Regions from separate parts of the Homo sapiens genome. Here regions 1 and 3 are each linked to region 2. The links come from fine-mapping of genetic effects on gene expression. A gene starts in region 2. Each other region holds a variant in brackets. All regions are shown on one strand. Distances are between the middles of the regions.

Evidence for each region.
Region 1: its variant is fine-mapped to the expression of TMT1A in whole blood (TOPMed, PIP above 0.99).
Region 3: its variant is fine-mapped to the expression of TMT1A in whole blood (TOPMed, PIP above 0.99).

Annotation. Positions count from the first base shown.
Region 1 is chr12:50,838,229-50,846,413 of GRCh38, reverse strand. It overlaps TMPRSS12 (transmembrane serine protease 12), which reads right to left and starts at 3,488. Exons shown (of 5, transcript NM_182559.3): 1 at 3,263-3,488; 2 at 2,377-2,572. The coding sequence starts at 3,449. It also overlaps the pseudogene RN7SL519P. The variant A/G (reference allele first, on the strand shown) is at 3,202.
Region 2 is chr12:50,921,434-50,929,618 of GRCh38, reverse strand. TMT1A (thiol methyltransferase 1A) reads right to left here and starts at 4,604. Exons shown (of 2, transcript NM_014033.4): 1 at 4,083-4,604. The coding sequence starts at 4,580. RefSeq lists enhancers at 3,724-4,267, 5,281-5,490.
Region 3 is chr12:51,091,653-51,099,837 of GRCh38, reverse strand. TFCP2 (transcription factor CP2) reads left to right here. Exons shown (of 15, transcript NM_005653.5): 12 at 59-183; 13 at 920-1,062; 14 at 3,798-3,849; 15 at 4,560-6,182. The coding sequence ends at 4,597. Among named protein-coding and RNA genes, the nearest start is that of CSRNP2, 12 kb to the right of the region's middle. The variant G/A (reference allele first, on the strand shown) is at 4,612.

The sequences.
Region 1 (8,185 bases), 83 kb after region 2:
TCTAATGGGGAAAGGACAAACTTTTCAATAGATGGTGCTGGGGAAACTTGATAGCTGCACGTAAAACAATGAAATTGTACCCTTACCTGATACCTTATGCAAAAATGGACTCAAAATGAATCAAAGACCTAAATCTAAGAGCTAAAGCTATAAAACTCTTAGAAGAAAACATAGGGGAAAAGCTTCGTGATACTGGATTTGATATAATGATTTCTTACATATTACACCAGAAACACAGGCAACAAAAGAAAAAAAATAGATAAATTTGACTTCATCAAAATTAAAAGCTTTTGTGTATCAAAGGACAATATCGAGAGTGAAAAGATGACCCACAGAATGGGAGAAAATATTTGCAAATAATGTGTCTGACAACAGATTAATATCCAGAATACATAAAGAACTCCTACAACTCAACAACAAAAAAGCAAAGAGCCCAGTTCAAAAATGGACAAAGGACTTGAATAGACATTCCTCCAAAGAAGATATACAAATGGCCAATAAGCACATAGAAAGATGCCTAACATCACTAGTAATTTGGGAAATGGAAATAAAAGCCACAATGAGCTACCATTTCATATTAATTAGGATAGTTATTATCAAAGTAGTAGTGTAAATATAAGTATGATAAGTCATAAGCTAGGAATATAGAGACTGATATTCTGGATGTACTTTTAATCAGTAGGGAGGGTGGAGGGACAGAAGAAGCAAATGTAAGATACTGCACAGAGAGCCTTCACAGGCCTTGGAGACTACTTGGATAGCTGAAGTGGGAGAAATTAGATAACTCTCTGGGTAATGGAGCTGTTGATGATGCTATCAACTGAGAAAATAGAGAAGAAATAGTATCAGAGGAAAGTAAATTCCATTTTGGACTTATTTAAAATGTGACTCCAATAAAGCTGGAAATATGACTCATCAGGAGAGACCTAGGAGTTGACAGCACATGGTGATTGCTGAAACAGAGGTAGATTAGACATCTCTAGGAAAGAGTACAGAATGACAGAGGGCAGAGGGCAAACTCTAGAAAACACTGCAATGTAAAGGATGACAAAGACTCATCAAAGAAGCAGGAGAAAAAAGTAGAGAATGGTGTCTTAGAAATCAAGAAAAGAGATAATTTCAAGAAGAGAATGTGGTCAACATTGCCAAAGGCTGTAGAGGTCAAAAAGGATGGGAACTGAGATGAAGTCATTGGATTTGGCATGGAAGTGGATCTTTAACAGCATTTGGCCACAAAAATCAGACTGCAGTTGGATTTTATGGGTCAATGGAGATGAAGCAAAGAGAGTCTCTTTTTCAAAGAGTCTAATAGTGAAGGCCAAATCTGGCATGTCTCTTGTTTTCATACAGTCCATAAAGCATGTTTTTTACATTAACAATTTTTTTAAATATAGAGACAGGGTCTCGCTATATTTCCCAGGCTGGTCTCAAACTCCTGGCCTCAAGTGATCCTCCCGTCTTGGCTTCCCAAAGCATTGGGATAACAAATATGAGCCAACATGCCCTACTCTACATTTTTAAATGGCTGAATCAACCACAATATTTCATGACACGTTAAACATATGAAATTCAGATTTCAGTGTTCATAAAGTTTTATTGGATTATAGCCACACTCATTCAATTACTTATTTTCAGTGCTGGTTTTCATGCAATTGTGAGAGAGACCATATGACCTTCAAAGTGTAAAATATTTACTACCTTTATAGGAAGTTTACCAGCCTCTAATTTAAAAGATCCATGATCGAGCATGGTGGCTTACACCTGTAATCCCAGAACTTTGGGAGGCTGAGGCGGGCAGATCACGTGAGGTTAAGAGTTCAAGACCAGCCTGGCCAACATGGTGAAACCCCCTTTTCTACTAAAAATACAAAAATTAGCTGGACATGATGGCAGGCATCTGTAATTCCAGCTACTCCGGGGGCTGAGGCAGAAGAATCGCATGAACCCAGGAGGCGGAGGTTGCAGTGAGCCAAGATTGCACCACTGCACTCCAGCCTGGGTAACAGAGTGACACTCCATTTCAAAAAAAAAAAAGTAAAAAATAAAGGATTCCTGGGTAGGGGGCTAGGGGAGGGATAGCATTAAGAGAAATACCTAATGTAGTTAGATGATGGGTTGATGGGTGCAGCAAACCACCATGGACATGTATACCTATGTAACAAACCTGCACGTTCTGCACATGTACCCCAGAACTTAAAGTATAATAATAATAATAATAAATAAAGGATTCCTTTCAACAAATACACTGTACTATATATAAGGCATTATGGCTATTTGCAAACATAGCTTAGCTGAAAATGGCTGAAGTTAAATGGTCCTCTATCACTTCAAAATATCCCCTAAGAGCATAAAAATAGTTGTGTTCTGAATACGTACCTAGCGTCTTTAGTGCAGTGGGCAGCTGTGAGGACCCACCTCTCTCTCACTAGGGTTCCCCCACATACATGAACAAGAACACGGCCATATTTAATCTGCAGGCTCACCACCCACGGCCATGCGCCAGCTTGTGCTTCGGTGCCCCCTATAATCCGAGACCCTTGCAACACATCCTTAAGCGGTGCTGTTCCACAATCTAAAAATAAAAATGATATATTATTTGGACTGAGCATCTATAGTATGTGTTACTTCCTAAGCTGAACATATTAATGCAATCCTTTAAATTCCTATGTTAAAAACACAAAGCAAGCTAACATACCGGAGACACGCCCATATTTTGAAAGAAACTTGGAGAGTTAAGACAAATATGCCATAATCGATTACTTACAAATAGACATGAAGTCAACACAATTCATTAATTTTAAAACTCTATTCCCCAAAAATATAAAAATAAAAATTTTTGGCCACGTATCACATTCTTCCCTGTGTGAAATAGCAGTTAAAGAGCCTGGGAACGGTGAGTCGAGAGCCGCAAATTCTAATGCTCACCATTTCACTTGTTGGGCTAATTTTTCTCAACTATAGTATGAAATGGTCACCTAATAGCCCTCCCTTTCAACTCTTTATCCCCTGACTTATTAATCTATAAAATGGGGATGATAAAACCCAGAATGTTTTGAGGAGAAAATACAGATTCACAATACAAATGTGTCATTTCACTATTACAACTACTGTTATTACAGCCGGTCTAGAAACTGCTTAGGTATGTAAAATTTTGGTTAAAGGCCATTGGGACAACAGAAAAGGAGAAACCCGAATTCAAAG[A/G]CTATAGCGGTGGGGAAAAGGTAAGAGAGGCTCCCCAGAGACAGGCACGAACAGGTACTGCCCTCTGCATGCGCCCCTCCCTCCCTCCGCCGCCGGAGCCTCTTGCGGACGGCCTCAGCCTGCTGGGAACTAGCCGCCGGTTCCGGCGAGGGGCCGAGCCTGTGCCTTCCAGAGGGCGAGTAGTGGTCTGAGTATAAGTGAGAGCTCCCCACAAACAACAGCGCCACGCTCAGGAGCCCCAGCCGCATTTTGGAGGCTGGTGAGCAAGATGGCGGCAGGTACTTCCCACCCGCCCTGGGCACGCGGGGCGCACGGCCTGGCGGGGAGGCGCGAGTGAGGCCCGGAGGTGTGGGAGGCGGCCGAGGAATAGGTAGGTCAGTTTAGAAAGAACCCCTCACCCTCAAGGTCTGATCGGCTTCCTCATCCACCACTATCCCCCAGGTGATGTCTGATCACCCTGGCCTGTCCAGCAAGAATCCTGTTAGGTCGGTTAGCCGGAATGCCATTACTCCTGATGCTACCTCTTAGTAATTTTCCATCCACTGACACGTCTCTCCTGCTCCGTGGCTGTAAATTCTCCCTTGGCTCTGCTCTGTTTGGATTTTAGCCCAGTCCCTCTACCCATTACAAAATCCCATTGCCATGGTCCCTATCCCTATCTGGATGGTCCTGAATAAAGTCTGCCTTGCTGTGCTTTAATGAGTATCACTGAATAATTTTTCTTTAACATAACCCAGAGTTTTTAAGAGTGATACCTAATGTTCAGTTTTAAATTGTTCTGTCATTCCTATCTTGACCTATACTGAACTTTGCCTTTGTTAACCCAACACCTTCAGTAATAAGAAGACCGTGTGGGCTGTGGGAAGTTGGTGAGGTGGTGGAGAGTTAACGTAGAGGTCAATAAAAGGACAGTTGCCTTGCTCATACCATCCTTCCGAGGCTGGTGCAGTTGGCAGCATTAGATAAAAGGAGTATATGAGTTTGGGGCTTACACATGGTAACATGTGGGGAAGGGAGCAGAGTCTCAGAGCTGTGCCGAAATTGGGGTGGAGGAGGTGATATTGGAGAAACAAATTGCAGCATGAGCTGATCTCTGAGGGCTGACAAGAAACAAAGTCCTTATTCCCCAGATATTTTAGTGGAAGGTGATATTAGGAGGAGAAAAACACAGTTGGGGTGTGTGTATTTCTGTGTGTGTGAGATGTGGTCAGATTGTGTATGCCTTTGTAAACAAGGCAAGATGACTTTTTTTTTCTTTTTTTAAACCCATAGCCAACGTGATAAGGATGACGGGTCTTGCTATGACAGATAGTAGAGGTTTAACATACTCATAAAGCAAGTATATGCAGCCAAGTCATCAAATAGCAGTGACACAGGCAGTGGGCTGGGCACGGTGGCACATGCCTGTAGTTCTATTATACAGCACTGCTTTAAACAATATATTTTTTAGTTTTACTACTCAGGAGGCTGAGGCAGGAGGATTGCTTGAGCCCAGGAGTTCTGGACTGTAGTATGCTATGTCAACTGGTCAACTAAGTTTGGCATCAATATGGTGACCTTCGGGTAGTGGGGAACCACCAGGTTGCCTAAGGAGGGGTAACTGGCCCAGACTGGAAATGGAGTTGATCAAAATTCCTGTGTTGATTGGTAGTGAGATCATGCCTGTGAATAGCCACAGTACTCCAGCCTGGGCAACAAAGCAAGACCCCATCTCTCCAAATAAAATGAAAAAGGCAGTGGATCAATAACTGCAGAGGTCTTCTTCCTGGATTTCCTCTGCCTTTTCTCCTCTCCTGCATTGTCATTTCCTGTCTTTGGTGGGATCACTCCTATCTGCAGACAAATATCCTCTGGTATGGTAGGTAGCCTACAAAATGCCCGCCAATGAACCCTGTCTCCTGGTATTCACAGCCTTAGTCAGTTCCCTCTCCTTTAGTGTTGGCTGGATTTCGTGACTCACTTCTAGTAAATAGAAAGTAGAGGTGATGGGCTACCACTTTCAAGATTAGGTTATAAAAAGATTGTGACTTCTGTCCTGAGCACTCTCTGCAGTCCTGTTGCTCTAAGGTAAAGCTGCTGCCATGTTGTAAGCTGCCCTGTGGCCCTGTAGAGAGGCTGCCAGCAAGAGCCATTGAGGAACTGAAGTCCTCAGTTGAACAGCCACGAAAAGCTGAATCATGCAACACCGCATGATCTGCTTAGAGGCAGATCTTCCCCGATCACACCTTCAGATGAGACCACAGTGCTGGCTGACACCCTAACTGCAACCTCATGAGAGACCTTAAGTCAGAGACACCCAGCCAAACTACACTTAAAAGTTCTGACCCACAGAAAATACGAGATAAATTTTTGTTGTTCTAAGCTACTGCATTTTGGGATAATTTGTTACGCAGCAACAGATAATACATCTGGTTTCTCCCACCTTAGAAAAATCTTCAATTGACTTTATATCCCCTACTTTCCTCTATAGCAAAATTTCACCCAAGAAGTTGTTTACAATTACAGTTTCTACTTTCCACTTCCTCAACTTTTTTTCTTTTAGTAGAGACAAGGTCTACATTGCCCAGGCTGGTTTCAAACTCCTGGCCTGAAGAAATCCATCCACCTCAGCCTCCCAAAGTGTTGGGATTACAGGTGTGAGCCACCGCACCCAGCCTACTTCTTCACCTTTTATTCCCATCTTTGTTTTTTAAAAATTTTGTTGGTTTTTGTTAATTTTTAAGAATAGAAGCAGGACTTTATTTCTCCTCTCAGAAAAAGAGACCTTGTCCACAGAAGCTCTCTTAGCTTAACCAACTTCATCCCATTACATTTTTTGTTTCTTTGTTTTGAGTCTCACTCTGTCACTGAGGCTGCAGTAGTGCAGTGGCATGATCTCAGCTCACTGTAATGTCTGCCTCCCAGGCTCAAGTGATTCTCCTGCCTCAGCCTCCCAAGTAGCTGGGACTACAGGCATGTGCCACCTTACCTGGCTAACTTTTTTTTTTTTTGTATTTTTTGGTAGAGACAGGGTTTCACTGTGTTTCCCAGGCTGGTCTCGAACTCCTGAGTCAAGCGATCAGCCCACCTCAGCCTCCCAAAATGCGGGGATTACAGGCATGAGTCACTGCGCCTTGACCCCATTAAAATTTTTTAGAGAAAATTAAGTGAGCCTCAAAACAAAACATCCTACCTCTCCTTTCCAAGTGAAAGCTTAAGATCCATGGTTATGGAGGACAAGAGCATTAGTACCAGGGCTTGGGGCCTGGGCTTTGGGGAGGCTTTATCCTCCCACCTGGGGCATGTCTCAGTGCTAGCAATTATGAAAATAAAACTATTTGATTACACAGAATTTAATAACAGTACAAACATCCATGTATACACCACCCCATTCACTACATTTGTTTTACTGAATATTTAATACATATAAAAGGATATTTATAAAATATATGCTCAGTTTAAAGAATAACAGTAGAAGAATACCCATTTAAGAAAAAGAAGATTATTTTTGCTTTTGAAATCCCCTGTGTATCTCTCCCTCATTCTGTCTTTATTTTTCTCTCAGAAGTAACCAATATTCTGGATTTTGTATTTATTTCATTTATTCTCGTTATAAACCTTGCCGTACAGTATGGTAGCCCCTCACCACATGTGACAATTTAAGTTCAAATTTAAATTAAATAAAAATTCAGTTCCTCAGTCACATTAGCCATATTTTAAGTGCTCAGTAGCCACATGACACTTGTTACCATACTGGGCAGCATAGTTGTAGAATATTTCCACCGTTGTGAAGAGTTCTATTATACAGCACTGCTTTAAACAATATATTTTTTAGTTTTGCATGTTTTTGAACTTTATTACTCAGGGTTCTCCAGAGAAACAGAACCAACAGGAGAGTGAGGAAAAAAAAAGAGAAAGAGAGATTTTAGGGATTGGCTCACATAATTACGGAGGCTGAGAAATCCCACAGTCTGCCATCTGCAAGCTGGAGAAACAGGAAAAGCTGGCAGTGTGATTCAGTCTGAGTCTGAAGGCCTGAGACCCAGGAGTGTTGATGTCTGAGGACAAGAGAAGATGTCCCAGCTCAAGAGAAATAATTTGTTCTTCTTTCACCTTTTTGTTCTGCTGGGGACATCAACAGATTAGATGATGCCCACCTACAGTGGCGAGAACAATCTTCTTTGCTCATTCTCCTGATTCCAATGCACATCTCTTACGGAAACACCCTCACAGATACTCCCAGAAGTTGTGATTACCAGCCATCTGGATATCCCTTAGCCCCATTAGGTTGACACATAAGATTAATCATTACATGAGCTTTATATAAATGGAATCATATGATAAATTTTCTTTTGCAGCTAGTTTTTGTTTTTTTACTCAGCATTAGGTTCTTTACATTCATTTCTGTGGTTATCTAACTGCAATTCATTTACTCTCTCCCACACATCATATGCATATGCCACAATGTATTTATCTACTTTGGAATCTATTATTGATGGATATTTGCATTATTTCCAGGTTTTTTCTATTACAACTAATACTACTATGCATATGAGATGAGTCTCTCTGGACTACATACTAGTGGTAGGATTACTGAGTCATAAAGAATACCATCATCTTCTCCAAATAATGCCAAATTGTTTTCCAGAATGTTTCACCAATATTCTCTTCAAGCCAGGCATGGTGGCTCACACCTGTAATCCCAGCACTTTGGGAGGCTGAGGTGGGAGGATTGCATGAAGCCAGGAGTTCAAGACCAGCCTGGGCAACATAGCAAGACCTCATCTCTACAAAAAATTTAAAAAATTAGCTGGGCATGGTGACACATGCCTGTAATCACAGCCGCTTGGGAAACTGAGGTGGGAGGATCACTTGAGCCTAGGAGGAGCTCAAGGCTGCAGTGAACCATGATCATGCCACTGTACTCCAGCCTAGGTGATAGAGTGAGACCCTGTCCCTAAAAATAATAATTATTATATATATACAGATATATACACACACCCAT
Region 2 (8,185 bases):
AGTGGATGCTAAATGTAAATTACTCTTTGTAGGAATTAGCAACTGCTGCTTTCATTGAGGAGTTTTATAAATGTTGATCAAGTACAGGCACAATAGATGTTATTACATGTTATGTGTGGGGACATCTTCAGAAGTTTTCTACATATCTACCTCTGAGGGGAGTAAGGAGCAAGGGACCAGACAGTCACCTCACAAAATTGTGGTAACTGCACCACTCTTCTTGGCCTCCTCTAGTTATCCTAGTCTTGGCTCCTCAGGCAGAGTTTAGAGAGAGAATTCAGTTTAGTGATGGAGTTTCCCCAAATTATATGGGTCAGTGTAAGACCTATGTTACGAATAGAAAAATTGGAATTTCCTGATTTATTTATTCATTTATTATTTCTTGAGACAGGGCCTGGCTCTGTCACCCAGGATGGAATGCAGTGGCACAGTCTCAGCTCACTGCAACCTCTGCCTCCTGGGCTCAAGCAATCCTACTGCCTCAGCCCCCCAAGTAGCTGGGACAACAGGTGCACACCACTACACCCAGCTAATTTTTTTTTTTATAGAGACAGAGTTTCGCCGCATTGCCCAGGCTGGTCTCGAACTCCTGAGCTCAAGTGATCCTCCTGTCTAGGCCTCCCAAAGTGCTGGGATTACAGGCGTGAGCTACCGTGCCCGGCCCTGATTTTAAAAAAAATCTTCATAGGATAGGGCAGCATAAAGGAGGAGAGGCAGGTTTGGGGAGGTCAGTGTTGCCCTCTGGTTTACATATGTTAAGAGGTGCCTCTGAGCAATCCAGGAGACTGTTGAGTAGACGGCTGGATATGAAGGTTTGGGGTCAGAAGAGAGACCTGGGATAGATGTTTAGATTTGGAAACATCTGTATATATGTGGTATTTGAGAACTGTGGAGGTATATGAGATTGCTGGGGAGTGTATATAAGTGAAATGAACCAATGAAAGGAGTTAGCCAGCTTGCTTTAGGCAGACAGTAGGGAAGGGTCCCGGAAGAACTTCTGACCAGTCCCACAAATGGTTACATGAGATGTTTTGTGCAGATAAGGGAACTTGCACAGGGGCTTGCCTAAACATGCCTGCAGCCCACTAAGGCCCCACATGCACGCTGGGGGAATGGGGTGGAGCCACCAGGAATTCATGCCTTTACAAACAGGGAATCCAGCTCCATCAGCTTTTCAGTTGCGAAGGGGGCAACCAGCAACCTGTTTTCAGGACCCCTCTTTTTGCTGAGAGCTTTCTGTTTCGCTTGATAAATTCTACTCCACTCACTCTTCCATGTTCACGTGCCTATTTCTTCCTGAATGTGAGACAAGAACCTGGACCTAGCTGAGCTAAGGAGCAAAAATCCTGTGTCACCAAGAAAGGAACCCCAGTGGTAGGAGATGGGTAGAGGAAGAAGAGCCAGCAAGAGTGATAGCAATGTTGAAATCAGAAAGATGAAAACCCCAATAACAAGCACTGTGGTACAGTGGTAAGAATATTTGCATTTGCATTTGGCTGGGCGCGGTGGCTCACACCTGTAATCCCACCACTTTGGGAGGCCAAGGTGGGTGGATCACTTGAGGCCAGAAGTTGGACACCAGCCCGGCCAACATGGTGAAACCCCATCCCTACTAAAAATATAAAAGTTAGCCAGGCGTGGTAGCATGTGCCTGTAAACCCAGCTACTCGGGAGGCTGAGGCAAGGAGAGTCACTGAACCTGGGAGGTGGAGGCTGCAGTTAGCCAAGATCATGCCACTGTACACCAGCCTGGGCGACAGAGCAAGACTCTGTTTCAAAAAAAAGGAATATTTGCATTTGCATTAAAGAGAGCCATGTCTACTAGCTGTGTAACTTTGGGCAAATTCCTTAATCTCTCTGAGTCTGTTTCTTTGTCCTAACATGAAGATATGTACTTTAGAGGACTGTTGACAGGGTTAAATGAAAATGTAATAAAGTTCCCTTGTTATATCCAGCAGAGAGTGGGTGCTTGGCAGGAGCTAAGGAAGACTATCACGAATGTGATAACTTTAAGAGTTCAATTGATTTTTGGCACTGGAAAACTGAGATAATAATTACCTGCCTTGCAGCGGTGTTGGGAGATTAGTAACACTGTAAGCAAAACATCTACTAATGTGCCAGTTGGTGCCCAGTCTTAGCATATAAGAACCCAGCATTTGGGTATAAGAATCAGTCCTTTTTTATTTACTACTCTGATATTGAGCCAAGACAGGATTGTATGATTTTCCCTAAACCCTATCTCCAAGTTCTTTTCTTCCTGAGGAACTTCCTCTATTAGAAAATAAAACTGATGGTTGGGCATGGTGGCTCACACCTGTAATCCCAACACTTTGAGAGGCCAAAGTGGGCAGACCACTTGAGCCCAGGAGTTTGAGACCAGCCTGGGCAACATGGCGAAACCTCATCTCTACAAAAATACAAAAACTAGCTGGGTGTGGTGGTGCATGCCTGTAGTCCCAGCTGCTGGGAGGGTGGGGAGGCTGAGACGGAAAGATTGCTTGAGTCCAGCAGGTCAAGGCTGCAGTGAGCTGTGATCATGCCACTGCACTCCAGCCTGGGTGACAGAGGGAAACCCTGTCTCAACAAAAAATGAAAACTGGGGATTACAAAACATGCCTTTCCCCCAGAAGAGTAAATTCAAATGTTAAGATATCCATATCTTCAACTTTGTTCAGAATATAAAACGATTTTAAACTAGCTAAAAATAATAAGGGTAATATGTGAAAACTACATACAGGTATAAAGAATTACAGACTTTACGGAAAGGTTTAAAATGAAAAGTAATTCTTTCCCTGAATCCAATCCCATTCCCCAAAGGCAACCACTGTTAATAGTTACTTGTCTGTCATTCCCATTAACTTATACACATATATGTATCTCCTCTCCCTGCCTCACACAATGGGCATGTGGTGGGCCTACGCTCTACCTAACATTCTGTGGCTTGATTGCTTTTTGTTTTCATTAAACATTATCCCTTGGGGATTTTTAAGTATCAGCACAGATAACTCTTCTTGTTCTTTCTGACAGCTGCACAGTGTTCCTTTATACAATATGACAACTCACTTACATAGCATCCTATTGATAGACATTTCAGTTATTTCCAGTTTGTGCAATTACAAATTCTACTTAATATTCTTGTGTATGGACAAGTTTTTGCATGTGGATAAAAGAGTATGTGTGGTTTAAATTTTGATATTATCAGATACCACCCAAAGAGGGTACCTCTTCTAATGTGTATGGTGGTGTCCAGTCCCCTAAACCCACCCCAACCCTATACTGACCTTAAAAGAAGTCCCTAACAGTATAATAGGTAAAATTAGTATCTCCTTTAATTAACTCTTTAAGTTTGAGCACTTTTGTCCTATAATTGGTTTACATTTCTGTTCCTGTTATTTGCCCATTTTCCCTTTTGTTTTTCTTATTGAAAAATATTGATCTTATTGACATGTAATGTCTTTTAACATGAGGGAAGTTAACCCTTTGTCTATCATCCCTGGCAAATATTTTTTCCAAGCTTGTTTTGTAGTTTAACTTTGTTTTGGGGAGTTTTTTTTTCTTATTCTTTTTTTTCTTTCTTTCTTTTTTTTTTTTTTTTTTTTTTTGAGATGGAGTTTCACTCTGTTGCCTAGGCTGGAGTGCTGTGGTGCAATCTTGGCTCACTTTAACCTCTGCCCCACCAGGTTCAAGCGATTCTCCTGCCTACAGGCACCTGCCACCATGCCTGGCTAATTTTTGTATTTTTAATAGAGATGGGGTTTCACCATATTGGTCAGTCTGGTCTCGAACTCCTGACCTCAAGCGATCTGCCTGCCTTGGCCTCCCAAAATGCTGGGATTACAGACGTGAACCACTGTGCCCGGCCAGGAGGTTTTTTCTTTATAGCAGTTTTAAGTTTTTATATTCAGATTTATCAATCTTTCTCTTTATAGCTTCTCTCCCACGCTAAAATTTTAAAAAATTCTACAGTATTTTCTAGTAGTTTACTTTTTATGTTAAAATGTTTCAGCCACCTGAAATTGACAGGCCTGCCCTCTATGATAATAGCTGCTACTAACTAGTCCTCCTCACACCCTTTCACTCACCGGTCTCAGCACTCTGCACACCTCGCGGAGAATCCGCTCCTGGTTCTTCACAGAGCACAGCACCAGGGTGCAGACCACCACATCCACAGAGCCATCAGCCACCTGGTGCATGTTCTCCCCGGCAGCTACCACAAAGCGCTCAAACTGCAGGTGTCGGTTCTCTGCAATGCTCTTGATCAAAAACTTCTCAAAGTTGGGGTTGGGGTCAATACAGGTCACCCTGCACCCAGGTGGGTAGAACTTGAAGTTGGCCCCCGTGCCACAGCCCACTTCCAGCAGGGAGAGTTTCCCGGAGGGGCCCGCAAACTCCTGCAGGTTACTGAAGAGCTCCCGCTTCTTGCTTGCCATCTGTTCGTTGTATATCACAGTGAACCTCACCAAGAAGTAGGGGAACCATTTTTTGCATATCCAGCTCCACAAGCCCAGAAAGTTCAGCAGGTACAAGGGAAATGTCAGGATGTAAATGGCCAGTCTCAGGATAAAGATGGTAAGCTCCATTGCTCAGAAGGGAAAAAAACAGATCAACAGTTAGAGACCCGACTCCTTTAATTGCAGGAGAGAGGCTTCTGGCCACACTCCAGAGCCAATCAGCTGCAGAGGAGAAAAAGAACTGGCTGTGCTGGAAAGTCAAATCATGGGCAAGAGGCCAATTTTGCCTAATAGATGTTTGGCAGCAGTCGATTCAGCTTAGTTTTCATAAGGCAAAATGAGAAGGTTCCCAGCTTTTCCTCAGAAGGAAAGTGGATTATAATCCTTTATTCCTAATCGATTCCTGTTTCCCCTTCTCTGGGTTTGGAGACAGCTGCTAGCTTCCTGCTAGAGTTTTATAAGCGCAGTGTACTTACACCCCACCGGGCTCTCCAGTGACCTCTAAAAGAAAACAGAATTCGTGGGTGGAGCCTGGTCAAACCACACCAGAAGAGTGCTGCCAAGGCCCCTTTATCATAACACATCCCCCTTACTTCCCCCGCCCAAACCCTGTTTTTTTTTTTTTTTTTTTTTTTTTTAAAAAAAAAAAAAGGAAGTGAAAGGACATGCATGCCCGGCCACAGTCAGCAAGAATTCTCTCTTTTACATTCTGGGCAGAGGCTCTCAGTGTTCACAACTCAACGTTTTTGTAAACCAAAAATAATGTTCTAAGGCCTCTAACCATCTGAATGGACTTTCTCCTTGGCCAGGGCGCTTTTAAAATTTAACTTGAGAGATTGTTTCAGGCCATGAGGGGAAGTGGGGGTCAGATATGCCTCATTATACCTCAAGCCGGCATTCACATCAACGCAGACCTTAAGTACATTTACAATCTATTCTCTCTGAAGCCTGCTACTTGGAGGCTTCATCTGCATAATAAAACTTCAGTCTCCACAACTCTTATTGCAACCCAGACATTTCCTTTCTATTGATCCCAGGTCTTTAGATAAACTCAACCAATTGTCAACCAGAAAAATTTAAAACGTACCTATAACCTGGAAGCTCCCTGCCTCGCGTCGGGTTGTCCTGCCTTTCTGGACTGAACCAATGTATTTCTTAAATGTATTTGATTGAAGCCTCATGTCTCCCTAAAATGTAGAAAACCAAGCTGTACCCTGACCACCTTGGGCACATGTTCTCAGGATTTCCCGAGGGCTGTGTCACAGGACATGGTCACTCATATTTGGCTCAGAATAAATCTCTTTAAATATTTTACAGAATTTGACTCTTTTTGTTGATATTTTAAAATCACTGTTTTGGGCTGTACTTCCCCTTTTAAAACAATTTTTGGCTCAAGGAAGTCAGTTTGTGGGCTGCCCTTCTTTTAAAGGACAAGCCTCAGTCTTCAAAATGTGCCTAACTACTCGATTACTCAGCTAATTTGGATAAAAATATTTCCCAGAATATTCACATTTGGGAGCCAAAGGGATTCAGAAAATAGTTTCAAGCATCCATCCGCTTTTTACAAGAAAGCCCGAATCTGGGCACAGTGGTGGGTGCCCATGGTCTCAGCTACTGAGGAGCTAAGACAGAAGCATACCTTGAGCCCAGGAATTCAAATCCTGTCTGGGCAACATAGTGAGACTCTATCTCTTTAAAAAAAAAAAAAAAAAAAAGAAAGAAGAAAAAGAAAAAGGCCTGAGCTTTAGGGTGGCTAGGGAACACAGAAAAAAATAATTTTTTAAAAATAGTAAACATTTACTTTAAAAAACTGGGTGATGGATACAGGGAGTGTTCTGTTGTTTCATGATTTGTTATAACCTGCATGTATTTTATAAATATTGTATCTATTCCATTTTTAACAGATTTTTTTAGGTGGAATTGACATATAATAAACTTTACATATTTAATGTGTACAGTTTGATAAGTTTTGACATATCTATATACCTGTGAACCCATCACTTCAGCCAAGATAAATGAACATATCCATCACCCCTAAAAGATTACTCTTGCTCCATTGTGATCCTCCCTTCTGCATTCCTAATCCTGAGGCAATCAGTGGCCTGTTTTCTGTCTGTGGCCTGTTTCCTTTCCTTTTTTTTTTTTTTAAATGAGCAGCAGCAAGATTTATTGTGAAGAGCGAAAGAACAAAGCTTCCACAGTGTGGAAGGGGACCCGAGCGGGTTGCCCTTCTGTCTGTTTTTGAAAACAGGATCCAGGGAAGAAACTGAGCAACTCCACAGGACTGGAAGATTCTAAAGCCCTCAGCAAAGGAGAATGAAAGTAATTTTGTAGAGAATTTAATTATTCTTTTTAAAATGGAGAGGCCTATGGCCACAAAGTTTGCTTGTAAGAAAAGTACCAAAGTAACCCCAGACATAATCATTAAGAAAATTAAAATACTTTTGGGAACCTACCTGGCTGGACAACTTTGCCATTTATCTCCAGCTATAGATATTTCCTTTTACAAATCAGACAACCTCATTATCCTTCTGGTGACACACTCTTTTCTTTTTTTCTTTTGCACTTATCTTTTGTTTTTGTTTAGGGAAATAGCCTGAATGTTGTTCCTGAAACTGTTTTTCAGAATTGTGAAAACAAAACAGCATTCTGAGGCTCTTAGCAAAGGACAATACCTGGGTCACAAAGCCCAGTTGAGACAGATGAAATTGAATTATCAGGCTGGGTGCCGTGGCTCACACCTGTAATCCCAGCACTTTGGGAGGCCAAGCAGGCGGATCACTTGAGGCCAGGAGTTTGAGACCAGCCTGGCTGAGGCATGAGAATTGCTTGAAGCTGGGAGGTAGAGGTTGCAGTGAGCTGAGATTGTGCCAGTGCACTCCAGTCTGGGCGACAGAGTGAGATGAGACTGTCTCAAAAAAATAAAAATAAAAAATAAAAATGAAATTGAATGGTCAACTCAAATAATGGAATACTTAATTTTCAAAAAGCCCTACAAAACAAATGTACTACTGATACATACAACAACAAAAATTAATCTTACAGATTAAAGGAAGAGAGTACATACTGTAGCATTTTATTTACATGAAATTCAAGCAGACTTACTTACATAGACATTTTGGGGTTATTGACTTAGAGGCCACAAAGGTGCCTTCTAGGGATATTGGAAATGTTCTATATTTTGATTTTGTTGGAAGTTAAACAGATATATATATACACACATATATATGTAAAAATTTATCAAGCTGTACACTTAAAGTTTTTGCACTTTAATTATATGTAAATTTATCTCAATGAAAAGTAATAAGACTTCAAGAAAAGACATAATAGGAATAAAAGGGCACATGTACAGATAATATAGAAAAATTTATATGAGAATACTAGGCACAACTTTATGCTAATATGTTTGAAGAGTTGGATAAATTAATTTTCTGCAAAATTGAAAATACCATAATTGATTCAAGAAGACATAGAATATCTGATTAAACTACTAACCATTAAAGAATCTAAACTGGTAGTATGTATGTCTTTACTCCCATGTCACGATTTCCAAAGTTATCAGAAACCTGCATGTGAAAGCACCTGTTAAAGTCTTATAGCTGATTATAAGCTGTCTCTTGAAAAAGCTTAAAACAAGACGACAATTGTCTGTGAATGACAAAATTTCTAGGGTAGTTACAGTTAAAAACACGATTGACAAATCTGGTTATTTCTGTGGTTGACAATGGTTTAAC
Region 3 (8,185 bases), 170 kb before region 2:
TTTTTATTGTGCTTACCATAAAGAATGTAAGACTAATTAGCCTTTTTCCTCCCCTTAGGATGGTGCGTCCAAGGTTAACCATTTATGTTTGTCAGGAATCACTGCAGTTGAGGGAGCAGCAACAACAGCAGCAGCAACAGCAGCAGAAGCATGAGGATGGAGACTCAAATGGTACTTTCTTCGGTAGGTTGTTCTGGACACACTAGGACAGATATGAAGAAAGGTGAAGAGATAACTTATGGGCATGTGTGATGGGAAACTATCAAACAGCAGATTTAGTATTTGCTAGAAGTAACAATAATCACTAGCATTTATTAAGTTCCTAATACATGGCAGGTGCCATTCTTTTTTTTTTTTTTTGAGACAGAGTCTCACTCAGTTACCCAGGCTGAAGTACAGTGGCACAATCATGACTCATTGCAGCCTTGACCACCTGGGCTCAAGTGATTCTCTCCCCTCAGCCTACCGAGTAGCTAGAACTAAAGCTACTCATTTGCCTAATTGTTTTATTTATTGTAGAGATGGGATCTCCCTATGTTGCCCAGGCTGGTCTTGAACTCCTGGGCTCAAGCGATCTCCCTGCCTCAGCCTCCCAAATTGCTGGGACTATAGGTGTAAACCACTACACCCAGCCAGGTACTATTCTTAACACTTTTTATATGCTTTAATATTTACAACTAATATCTCCTCTTTGCGGAGGATTTTACTGTTATCTCCGGTATTTATGCAAGAAAAATCAGGCCTAGGAATGTTAAATAACTTGCCCTAGGTCACACAGCTGCAAGTGGTTGAGCCAGGATTTGAACTTAGGCAGTGTGATTTCTGAGTCCTTCAGAAAAGTGGGCATTCCTAGTGATCAAGTTACCTGTAAGAGTGGACAAACTTTGTACTGACTGCTGTTGCTCTCTCCCTTTTGCAGTTTACCATGCTATCTATCTAGAAGAACTAACAGCTGTTGAATTGACAGAAAAAATTGCTCAGCTTTTCAGCATTTCCCCTTGCCAGATCAGCCAGATTTACAAGCAGGGGCCAACAGGAATTCATGTGCTCATCAGTGATGAGGTAGATTTTTCAGTACAGTTGAATTACCAGATGATGATTAATTTGTCAGCGCATGGAGCAAGAGCAGTTCTCCTGGGGCAGAGTGTTCTGTTTTCTAGATCAGAGGGTTTCATACTTTTTTGCTTGCTTTCCTCCTAATTTTTTTTTTTTTTGAAACAGTCTCTCTCTGTTGCCCAGGCCGGAGTGCAGTGGCCCAATCTCAGGTCACTGCGACCTCCTCCTCCTGGATTCAAGTGATTCTCCTGTCTCAGCTTCCCGAATAGTGGGAATTACAGGCGTGCGCCACCACGCCTGGCTAATTTTTGTATTTTTAGTAGAGATGGGGTTTTGCCATGTTGGCCAGGTTGGTCTCAAACTCCTGGCCTCAAGTGATCCACCCGCCTCGGCCTCCCAAAGTGGTGGGATTCCAGATGTGAGCCACTGCGCCTGGTCCTAAAATATTTTAAAAACCACATATTCCCATGCACATTTTTAGGTTGACTTAAAATTTTTTGTTAAAGTTTAAATAGTTGTAAAAGATGTCATTTCTGGGCATATATAATGACATTTTTAAGTGAAATGGTTACATCATTATTCTAATTGCATCCCATGTAACCTTAATACAAAAATGATTTAATACCACCACCATCCATTAAAAAAAAATACATGATTGTGCTTTTCTTTAACAGTTAGAATTCTTATACTATTCCTCTGTTTCCTTGAACTCTTATTTTCATTTACTTCCCCCGGTGAATTTTATCTTACTGTAACTTTTTTTTTTTGAGACAGAGTCTCACTCTGTCGCCCAGGCTGTTGTGCGGTGGTGTGATCTCGGCTCACTGCAACCCCGCCTCCTAGGTTCAAGCAATTCTCCTGCCTCAGCCTCCCAAGTAGCTGGTATTACAGGCACCCACCACCATGCCTGGCTAATTTTTGTATTTTTAGTAGAGGCTGGGTTTCACCATGTGGCCAGTCTGGTCTCGAACTCCTGGCCTCAAGTGATCAACCCGCCTCAGCCTCCCGAAGTGCTGGGATTACAGATGTGAACCACCACGCCTGGCCATCTTACCATAACATATTTTTATGCACAAACATCTTTTATTGATTATCCTACTATATTTGTTTGAAATAAAGTTTTTAAATAAAAATTTAAAAATTATTATAATGGAATTATCATAATTATACAATTGATTAAAATAATGTAAATATGCTACATGTTTTAATAAGTAATTATTAAAGATTAAGAAGGCTGCCCAGGCGCAATGGCTCATGCCTGTAAACCCAGCACTTTGGGAGGCTGAGACGGGTGGATCACAAGGTCAGAAGTTCAAGACCATCGTGTCCAAGATGGTGAAACCCCATCTCTACTAAAAATACAAAAATTAGCTGGGCATGATGGCAGGTGCCTATAATCCCAGCTACTTGGGAGGCTGAGGCAGAGAACTGCTTGAACCCGAGAGGCAGAGGTTGCGGTGAGCCAAGATTGCGCCACCGCACTCCAGCCTAGGCGACAGAGCGAGACTTCATCCAAAAAAAGAAAAAAAGAAGGCCAGGCACAGTGGCTCACACCTGTAATCCCAGCACTTTGGGAGGCCGAGGCAAGCAGATCACCTGAGGTCAGGAGTTTGACCAACATAGAGAAACCCTGTCTCTACTAAAATACAAAATTAGCCGGGTGTGGTGGCACGTGCCTATAATCCCACCTACTCAGGAGGCTGAGGCAGGAGAATCCCTTGAACCCAGGAGGCGGAGGTTGCGTGAGCCGAGATGGGGGCATTGCGCTCCAGCCTGGGCAACAAGAGCAAAACTCTGTCTCAGAAAAAAAAAAAAAAATTAAGAAAAAATTATTACAGGTATATCTATGAATGAGTTCGATGAAATTGTTTCGTTCCCTACCTGTACCCTTGCACATAATTATTTCCTTTGTAGCTGAATACTGCCTATTGATTGCTAGAATGACACAGGATTTCAGCATCAATTCCATTCTGTTTTTTTCCTCTAGATATAAATGCTGAGGGACTTGATTCCCATAAATTGATAGGAATGGATGGAATTTTGTAATGACAATGTCATTAGATTATACTTCAGAATTATATACCAGAAATTACATAGTGATATTACCAAAAAATCATTTTGAATCCTCTGTCTTACGACAATTTGTGATTAGGTTACTCTTTAATTCTGGTGAAAGGAAAGAGTTAGAAACCATGTGGCTCATAAAAGGGTCTATTGCTCAGTTATTAGCGTTCACCTTCGCCATTCCACTTTGCCACCTGAAGCTTTCACATCATGGGCCACCTTATTAGGATCCTGGGAGGGTGAAACTCATGCCTTTATCTTGGGAGAAGGGAGTTTATCCCTGGGAGAAGGGAGTTTGAGAAGGGAAAGTGGGGAAGGAAAATTAAAGAGGTTTTAGGAAAGAGCACATATGGGAGTTGAAGACACGGAAGTCAGTTCTCCTGTATGCACATATTTGTGTCCGTGTGCTCCTTGGAGAGTCTTGGGGTTAACCCAGGGAAATGCATACCAGGCTTTAAAACAACTCTTCCAATCTGCTTAGTTTTTTAATATTTAAAAACCAAATGGGAGGGGAGGAAAAAACTTTTATGATCCTAGATATTCAAGAAATACATTATTTGTGACCTGTAAAGCCTCCCATATAAATCCCTCTGGATGTGGGGTAGTCCTTAGGGACACAGGAATATAAAGGGGTTGTTTTTCATTTAAATAATCACAAATTTTCTTGCATTTTTCAGATGATACAGAACTTTCAGGAAGAAGCATGTTTTATTCTGGACACAATGAAAGGTAATAGTAAGACAAACATCTTTCTCTAAGCAGTTTAACAGCTTTACTACTACTAGGCAAAGTACATACTTCTTTGAGGAGAGATAGGAAAAGTAACCATATTTGGGTAAAGAAAGTGACAATATTAGAGATTGTTCCTTTTTTTAAGTTGGCTTTTTTTTTTTTTTTTTTTTTTGAAACAGAGTCTCGATCTGTTGCCCAGGCTGGAGTGCAGTGGCATGATCTCGGCTCACTACAACCTTCGCTTCCCAAGTTCAAGTGATTCTCCTCCCTCTGCCTCCCAAGTAGCTGGGATTACAGGCACGTGCCACCATGTCTGGCTAATTTTTGTATTTTTAGTAGAGATGGGTTTCACCTTGTTGGCCAGGCTGGTCTCGAACTCCTGACCTCAAGCGATCCACCCACCTTGGCCTCCCAAAGTGCTGGGATTACAGACATGAGCCACTGTGCCTGGCCCAGCTTTTTGCCATTCTCTTCCATCTTCCATTACAGATGAGGAAATTGAGGCATGTTGTTTTTATAATGCATTTTTTTTGAGACAGAATTTCGCTCTTGTTGCCCAAGCTGGAGTCCAGTGGCGTGATCTCAGCTCACTGCAACCTCCACCTCCCTTTTCTCCCCTTCTCACGAGAATCTTACCATACTTTTTTTCTCCTGCTGTGTTTTAGAGGTGACTAAAGATGATTCTCTCTCTCTCTTTTTTTTAACAGCAGAAACCAATGATAGCTATCATATCATACTGAAGTAGGAGTGCGGCGTTTC[G/A]TGCCCAGTGGCTGCTCCTTCCTTCACCTCTGAAAACGGCCCTCTTGAAGGGGGATATGAATGGAGATTTGAAGGTCTGCAAGAACCTGACTCGTCTGACTGTGTGTGGAGGAGTCCAGGCCATGGAGGCAGAATCCTGGCCCTCTGTGTTGGCCCAAGCTCTTGTGGTACACACAGATTACTGCCCAATATGCAGTTCTGCAGCTGTTTTAGTTAAATTTCTGGACCTTGTTGTTGTTAAATATCAGTAGAAACTCTACATAATTTAGAGTGTATGTAGGGCATAATGATGATGGGAATTGTGTGATGTTTAACAGGAAGATCTTAAATTTTGTGATATGGAGCCCTGTAATTTTTTTCTTATATAAAAATGGGTATCTATATTCATAAGACTAGGTCTTCAATCTCTTTGTACTGGTCTCAAATGTACTGGTATCTCTGCTTTTTGCCACAGTTTGTCCCTGAAAACTTTATCAGTGAGGAGAAATACAGAATTTTCCTTTTGGTTCCCCTGTAATACCACAACTAATAGTATTTTCAGCTAACATTTATTGACCAGGCAGTGTGATAAATTTTTTGAATGACCATCTTGTTTAACCCCCTAATCACACTATCTGAAGTAGGTGCTATAGTGACCCCCAACCGAAGATGAGGAAATGGAGACACACAGTGGCTAAGTAGCTTGCTAGGTGCCAGGAGCTGGCAGGCAGTGATGCTGAAATCCAAACCAGGCAATCTGGCCCTCCTTATTCACCCTCTCATACCACCAGTGCTACCCATTATAACCTGTGTTCACTTCGCTTATTACTGTGGCCCTTCTGGTGACTACAACATAACACTGAGTATGAACTGAGGAATTAACCACTGAAAGAGACAAAGCACACCTAAATAATGATGAACAAATCAAGACCTACAAGAAATGAACACATAGATGCTTTTTAAGTGTCATTAGTTATCGGAATCAAAGAATTTGAGGTGGTGACAACTGGGGATTATCTGTAACTCCCCAAATTTACTGTTCTTGAATGACATTCTCAAACTATTTATTAATGAGTTAGTCTCATCCCTGCTTTCTGTTTCCTCTCTCTGCATCTTCTCTTGGCATAGGAAGTTATTTTACTCATGCTATGTTTTTTAATAGAAGCTTTACAAAAAAAGATGCATTCCCTTCCTGTTCACACTCTTACCATGTTTTTGTTCTTCCTTAAGAATGATTGTGTGTGTGTGTGTGTGTGTGTGTAAGTGTGTAAGTGTAACATCATGGGTTTTCTTTCTTCACTTGTAAAGTTTTATCTAGAAATACTTTTACAGGTTATGTTGAGGTACACAAAGATAATGTTCTAAGATTGTGTATTGGATTTGGATTTGTGTGTGTGTGTGTGTGTGTGTGTGTTTAAAGCATTTGATAAGGTTTAAATGTTTTTTATACAGAGATTTTTGTTCATTAAACTCAATCTGCATCATGGTCTAATTTCTCTTGGTTTGAAACAAATTGAAAACTTTGAAACCAAAAAATTAAGTCAATGACTTGTTTAAAACTGACCTGAGCAACTTGTTATATTACACCAAAATGCTTCTTAGTGAATGATTACCAGGTGTCTCCATTTTGAGGAGGAGACGTATCTGGTTGTCTTATATTCCTAGTACTGGTTCTCAACCTCAGTTCTTTCCTCAGCAGGCTGCTATTGGTTTGGATTTTTTTTTTTTTTTTTTTTTTTTTTTTTATGTCTAGGTGTTTGGGTAGGAAAGTTGGACTAGATGCCTTTTTCTTTTTTTTTTTTTTTAATATAGAAATGAGTCTGGGCACCGTGGCTTATGCCTGTAATCCCAACAATTTGGGAGGCTGAGGCAAGCAGATCACTTGAGGCCTGGAGATTAAGACCAGCCTGGCCAACATGGTGAAACCCTGTCTCTACTAAAAATACAAAATTAGCTGGGCGTGGTGGCACACACCTGTAATCCCAGCTACTTGGGAGTCTAAGACATGAGAATTGCTTAAACCTGGGAGGTGGGGTTGCAATGAGTTGAGATCAGGCTGCTGCACTCCAGGCTGGGTGACAGAGCAAGACTGTCTCAAAAAAATTTTTTTTAATAAAATAAAATATAGAAATGAGGTCTCACTGTGTTGCCTGCCAGGTTGGTCTTGAACTCCTGGGCTCAAGTGATCCCCCGTCTCATCTTCCAAAGTGCTGGGAGTACAGGTGTGAGCCACCGTGCCTGGCCAAGACTAGGTGACTTTTTTGTTTTGAGACGGAGTCTCACTCTGTTGCCCAGGCTGGAGTTAAATGGCCTGATCTCAGCTCACTTGCAACCTCTGCCTCCCGGGTTCAAGCAATTCTCCTGCCTCAGCCTCCTGAGTAGCTGGGACTACAGGCACGGACCACCATGCCATGCTAATTTTTCTATTTTTAGTAGAGATGGGGTTTTACTATGTTGGCCAGGCTGGTCTTGAACTCCTGACCTCATGATCCACCCACCTCGGCCTCCCAAAGTGCTGGGATTACAGGTGTGAGCCACCGCACCTGGCCCAAGGCTAGGTGACTTTTAAGGTTTCTTCCAAATCTTTGCATTTGTGACTCTTACTGCAAATGATGCATAAAATTAAATATATAGATGAGGCACAGTGGCTCATGCCTGTAAGCCCAGCACTTTAGGAGGCCAAAATGGGAGGATCACTTTAAGCCAGGTCAGGAGTTCAAGACCAGCCTGGGCAACAAAGTGAGACCCGCCCCCCCATCTCTACAAAAAGTTAAAAAAATTAGCCAGGTATGGCAGTGATTACTTGAGCCTAGGGTTGGAGGCTGCAGTGAGCTGTGATCATGCCACTGCACTGTAGCTTAAGTGACGAAGTAAGACCCCCATCTCAAAGAAAACAAAACAAGAATTATATCTCCCTCTGTCACCCAGGCTGGAGTGCAGTGCCAGTTATAGCTCACTGCAGCCTCAAACTCCCAGGCTCAAGTGATCCTCCTGCCTCAGCCTCCCAAGTAGCTAGGACTACAGGCACACACCACGAAGCCCTGCTAATGTTTTTTTGTAGAGACAGGATCTTACCATGTTGCCAACCTAGTCTTGAACTCCTGGCCTCAAGCAGTCCTCCTGCCTTGGCCTCCCAAAGTGTTGAGATTACAGGCATGAGCCACCACGCCTGGCCTTTATTAATATATTGACTATAAATTACACTTAACTATTTTTACCTGAAGTCAGGGTTTTTTAGAGTAGTCTTCGAATTTATGGAAATGAACTTATACAACTTTGAAATTATAGATCCTTAAATTTACCAGAAAATCTCTTAGGCTTTCTTTAGCTACAAAAAATTTTTATTGTGCCAGTGATGTATAATTGGTAAGAATTGGCATAGTGCTAGAACACTGTAATTATTCAGTTTGCTTTAAAACATTGCATATGTTCACTAATAATCCTTTCAATTAAGTGAAAATTTTATACTAGCTTTTTCATTATGAAAGTAATACACAGAATGATAAATTCAAACAATAAAGAATGGTATCATATAACTTTCCCCCTTACCTCTTAGTCCCACTCTGTAGAGGTAATCATTGCAAAGAATTTCCCC